Linked DNA regions of Homo sapiens. The protein of the gene in region 1 purifies or fractionates together with the protein of each later gene. This does not show direct contact. Each region holds a gene or a part of one and is shown on either strand. Other genes may lie near its edges.

Region 1 (2,258 bases):
GGAGAATGGCATGAACCTGGAGGCGGAGCTTGCAGTGAGCTGAGATCGCACCACTGTATTCCAGCCTGGGTGACAGAGCCGGACTATGTCTCAAAAAAAAAAAAAAAAAAAAAAGAAAGAAAGAAAAAAAAAGAAGCTTCTGCCATGGTAGAGTGTAAACATGTTGAGTACCATGCTGGAGAAGTACAAAGTGCTGTGGGAGGATGTAACAGGGCCAACTCTGCTTCTCTGGAGAAGTGACAGTTGAGCTAAGAGCTGATGGCTGACCACCAGGAGTTAGTGAGACAGAGCGGGCATGGAGGGAGGCATGTTCCAGGCAGATGGAACAGAGGGAACAGCAAGTGCAAAGCGTCTGAGCTGGTGCAGAGTTTGTGATGTTCCAGGGACTGTGTGATGGCCAGGGTGGCTGTACAAACAGCCCACCAGACCAGACTGTGCAGGACCATGTGGGCTGCATCTAAGATTTTTGAAGTTCAAGTCACCAAAAAGTTCTAGTTAAGTGGTGGGCAAAATCACAGTGGTTTTATAAAAAGACTGACTGACAAGTGGAGTGAAAGCAGAGACAAATTAGAAGGTTTTCCTGGGGATCTAAGAGAAAGACAAAGGAAGGCTGGACTGAGTGGCAGCTCAGGGCCTGGGAAGAAGAGAATGGATGCAAAGCCATTGAGGAGGCAAATCAACAGAGCTTGTGATGAACTCCACGTGGTGAGATGGCACAGCAAGAAGTGGCAGTCACTGTCGGATTCTCCCCTCTGACCCACAGCTCCTGAACTGCCCTGAGTAGCTTAAGGCAGGGTGCTGAGGTGAAGCACCAAGCTGAGTCTTATCTCAGCAAATCTAAGTTAGGCCGGGCATGGTGGCTCACACCTGTAATCCCAGCACTTTGGGAGGCTGAGGTGGGTGGATCGCCTGAGGTGAGGAGTTCAAGACCAGCCTGGCCAACATGGTGAAACCCCATCTCTACTTAAAATACAAAAAATTAGCCTGGTATGGTGGCAGGTGCCTGTAATCCCAGCTACTCGGGAGGCCGAGACAGGAGAATCGCTTGAACCCAGGAGGCAGAGGTTGTAGTGAGCTGAGATCACACCATTGCACTCCAGCCTGGGCAACAAGAGTGAAAACTGTGTCAAAAAAAACAACAAAAAAAACAACAACAAAAAAAACCTAAGTTAGAGTCTACAAAATGTTTCCTTTGATTTTTTTCAGAATGCCATCATATCTGCGTCCCAGAGCTGAGCTCACCCATTTAGCAAGATTCATTCTGACAGCATGAGCCTGCAGTTACCTTGTAAGTTATACTGCCTGCTCACTGTCCTCACTGGAACCATCCTTGCTCCTGCCCAGTGGCCTATGAAAGAAATCTCTCAATAAACTCCCAGCCAGACTCTAAGCCAGTGAATTCTGAAGCCCTCTCACCATCTGTGACCACTTCATTGACTGCCATGACCCCGGCCACCTGGCACAACTGCCCAGCCCAGGATGGGACTGCTTCTGTGGGGAACTGGGTGGGGAAAGAAATGATGCACGTGGAGCTCTTTATTTGCTTCTGATATGTACAGGTATATACAGTTGGTGAGAGTCTATGGTACATTATTTCACAAAATTATCTTACATCTGTGCACACTCCTGGGCAAGAAGTGGCAGATTCTGCCCCTAATATCCCATAGATGGTGAAGGAAAAGGATGCTACCAGGAGCCACCCCCTTCCGAGGACATTCATGGGGGCCGCCTGCCCTCTTCCCAGACACTGGAGCCCTCCCACGGACAATCTGTGCCTCCCACCTGCTCTGAGCACTTGCTGACAGGAGTGGTGGCAGCAGCAGCAGCTGCTTCCAAAGTCTTTCTTCTAGAGTAGAAGACTTGTCGTGGGGGCCAAAAACAAACAAACAAACAAACAAACAAACAAAAAACAATGGCCCCCACTCACTGATAGCAGCAAACGGACACCTGACTCCTAGAGCCTGCCTGGAATCCTCCGCCCCGGGTTTGAGGGCAGTGGCTCACCCACCTTCCCCCAGCACAGGTGCAGCCTGGCCTCACGGGGCACTGGCATGCATCTTCTCCAGGCAACTTGTCCAGAACGTGACCAGCCGGTTGTCACGGTTGATGCAGAAGTCCGTGAAGTCCTTCAGCAGCCGATCAGCAAACTTTTCATCCCCTGTGGCGCTGGAGCGCCATGTTTTGGTGAGCATGGTGTTGTAGGCCCAGTTGTAGCCGACCCGCTCCTCGCAGAACATGTTCTGGTTGGTGGAGCTGGT
Region 2 (3,500 bases), on another chromosome or scaffold:
AGGAATCAAAAGTTTGAGCATGAAAAAAAAAAAAAGTTTGGCCACTACCTGGCTATTAGCACTTGATTTCTTTGAGCCTGTTTCTTCCCAGTAAAATGGAGTTGACAGTGCCTGCTTCACAAAGCCGTTTTGTGAATTAAATGAATCAGAAATCAGAAAGGAATAGCTTAAAAGCTGCAATTTAAAGAACAGGAAAAGATGCCTGCCTACCAATATGCCATGTCCTTTCTTCCCAGGGACCAAAGATCCCTAACCCCTTCCAAGCTTACCTCCTCCACGGGGATGAAGGCGCTGGGCCCTCGAGGGCCTCGCCGAGCCCGGCTCTCCCTCTGCTCCTGGGAGGAAACATATGAGGTTAGTCCGTAGTAGAAGGGAGAATAAAGAGGATTATTACCTATCCAGCCTCTTCCTCCTATCCAAGGGGCTACACTGAAGTGTTAAACCCACCTTTCTAGCATACTTTGGATGGTGGAGCCAGATGGGAGATATACACATGTTTGGAAGGGTAATCAAGAAAGAGGGCTCACTCCAGGCTGAGTTCTTCAGGAACTGGGTTGGGACCCAAGAATCCCAGCATTGCGGGATGGGAGGGTCCTGGAAAAGGAACTATATAGCCATCATGCTGCACATCTCCAGGAGGCCACCTTCTTAGTGGTCCCAGAGAACTTATACAAGAACACACCACAGTTTGCACCCTGAAGCCAGGTAACCAAGTACCCCAGATGCTTCAGAAGCAGCTTCAATTTCTCTCACATGTTCGTTCGTTCCTTCCTTCCTTCCTTTCTTCCTCCTCCTCCTCCTTCTTCCTTCCTTCCTTCCTTCTCCTTCCTTCTTTTGCTTCTTTTTTTTTTTGAGACGGAGTATCGCTCTTGTTGCCCAGGCTGGAGTGCAATGGTGCGATCTCAGCTCATTGCAACCTCTGCCTCCTGGGTTCAAGCGATTCTCCTGCCTCAGCCTCCCGAGTAGCTGGGATTACAGGCATGCACAACCACGCTCACCTAATTTTATATTTTTAGTAGAAACTGGGTTTCTCCATGTTGGCCAGGCTGGTCTCGAATCCCCAACCTCAGGTGATCCGCCCACCTCAGCCTCCCAAAGTGCTGGGATTACTGGAATGAGCCACCACGCCTGGCCTCTTCTTTAGTGGTGCAGTCATAGCTCACTATAGCCTCAAACTGCTGGGCTCAATGGATCCTCCTGCCTTGGCCTCCCAAAGCACTGGGATTACAGATGGGAGTCACCATGCCTGGCTGCTTATCTGTCCTCCCACCACCACCACCTCATTAACTACCACCCCCTCTTGTCTGGACCACTACTCACAACCTCGCCAGTTGTCCCCCGGCCTCCTTAGCCCTGGCCTCTCCTATCCATCCTCTACCCAGTAGCCACATTAACTTTCTGAATATAAATCCGATCAACTGGCTTAAAACCCTACCTCCCCCTCCCATGGGCTTCCAGATACAACTGGCCCAGTCCCAGTGGTCACTCCTTTTGCAAAGCTAAACCACAATAGTCTAGGAACCTTTTTCTGGCCCTCACCTATGACCCCAAAATTCCCAGGGCTTTTGCTTCTAAAAACACTGTCATCAAATTGTCTGTTTTGTTTCCCTGACACCAGATCACATTTAGTGGAGAGCAGCGCCAGGTCATTCATACTAGTCTGTGAATGAAGACAGAGAAAGCAGAAAGGCACGGAGGGAATCTGAGCAGGGTGTACAAGGCTGATGGGAGCAACTGTTTTGACCTGTTATATGCTGCAGCCTCTTTAGAAACCACTAATATCAGGTACTCACTACATCTGCTTCTCCTAGTCCTAGAGATGGGGTTCAGGAAGGATGCTCTACTTATTAATTTATTTTGTTAATCTGAGAGTGGAGGTGGCTCTCAGCACTGGTCTTGTTTACAGTTTACCCAAATCAGAGCCATGCTCTCACTGGACAGGGATAGGAGGCGCCCAGTTCTCCCCTTCCCATTAAGATCCAGACTTAGTACCAGCCCTCAGGTATCCGGGAACCAAAAACTATAATTGAACCTTCCTTCTCAGATGGCCAAAAGCCCACTGAGGAGGCAGAGCTCTGGGACTCCAGAAGACTACAAAGTCTCTGGAATAGGTACCAATTCTGCAACTAACTTGCTATGTGGCTCTGGGAAAGTTAAAGGCCTAAACTCTCTTTACCTACTAAACTGGTAGGTAAAGTAGCCCAGCTACCTTCAAAAAGGGAGTTGAGCTGACCGTGCAGGCCCCCTTCAGCCCACACTTCTGGGAACTTCCGGGCCAGGCTGGTCCAAGTTCAGCGTAGTAACCAACACAATCCCTGAGCACTCCCCTTTGGAGCTTCCCTCCCCCTCACCAAAGAAAAAGCCCAACAGCTCTGTATAGGAGATAAGGATTGCTGACTCCACAAACTGGGCCTCCACCTCAGGGGACCTGAGGACAGAATAGCAAGCCACAGCAGGGTAGGGTGGAGCAAAACTGGGGGAGGCAGAGACGGCCCATCAGGGGTGCTAGGGAAGGATAGGAATAGCCTTGGGAATCCCAACTCACTCCAAAATCTGACCCAGGAATTGTCAAAAGAAGGAGCTCTAAGTCATCGGTCTGGATCCATCAACACTTTCAGCAATAACAACAACAACAACAATATACAATGCAGTTAAAAGATAGGGGCCCTTGGCTGGCGCAGCAGCTCATCCCAGCACGTTGGGACACTGAGGCAAGAGGATCGCTTGAGGCCAGGAATTCGAGACCAGCCTGGGCAACACAGTGAGACCCCTGTCTCCACAAACAGTAAATTAGCTGGGCATGGTAGCACACAACCTGTAGTCCCAGCTACTCAGGAGGCTGAGGCAGGAGGACTGCCTGAGCCCAGGAGTTTGAGGTTACAGCAAGCTATGATCGCACCACGGCATTCCAGCCTGAGCAACAGGGCAAGACCCTGTCTCAAAAAAAAAAAAAAAAAAAAAGATGGGGCTCTTGACACAAATTGCATGAGCTCAAATGACAGCTCCACCACCTGCTATCCCTTAGCTTTATGAGCCTCAGTTTCTTTACCAAATAATGGGGATAGCAGTAACTACTTCCACTGGCCAGTGATGAGGATTTCATGAGATAACACTGTGTAGCTTACCTCAATACCTCCATAACAATAAGCACTTAATAAAAAGTCAGGTATCATTAACCTCCTTGCTGTATCAAACAAGGGCTTCTCAACCCAAGCGGTACATTAGAATCCTTTGAGAAGCTTTACAAAAATAACAATGCCAAGGTCCCACCTCCCGCAATTCTAATTTAGTTATCTGGGGTGGGGCCCCAGCATAACAGCCAGGGTGAGGACCATTGTTTACACCATTTATTGATCACTTTCTCAAGTATAAGGCACTATGCTAAGTGCTTTCTAGGTGGAAACAGAATTAATTTGTTCACTCAACAAATATTTTTGATGGCTATATTGCAAGCAGCAAGAATACAGCAGTGAAAAGACAAAGCCCTTGGCCTTCATATA

What was found.
Region 2: the proteins of DEPDC5 (region 1) and SESN2 purify together in Homo sapiens (affinity purification with mass spectrometry, with the first as the bait; one large-scale study listed by BioGRID). This does not show direct contact.

Annotation. Positions count from the first base shown.
Region 1 is NC_000022.11:31,906,276-31,908,533, reverse strand, and holds the end of DEPDC5 (GATOR1 complex protein DEPDC5), read right to left. Parts: coding exon 2,037-2,258; 3' UTR 501-2,036; downstream 1-500. UniProt on the Homo sapiens protein: As a component of the GATOR1 complex functions as an inhibitor of the amino acid-sensing branch of the mTORC1 pathway.
Region 2 is NC_000001.11:28,266,018-28,269,517, reverse strand, and holds part of SESN2 (sestrin-2), read right to left. Parts: intron 336-3,500; coding exon 270-335; intron 1-269. UniProt on the Homo sapiens protein: Functions as an intracellular leucine sensor that negatively regulates the mTORC1 signaling pathway through the GATOR complex. In absence of leucine, binds the GATOR subcomplex GATOR2 and prevents mTORC1 signaling.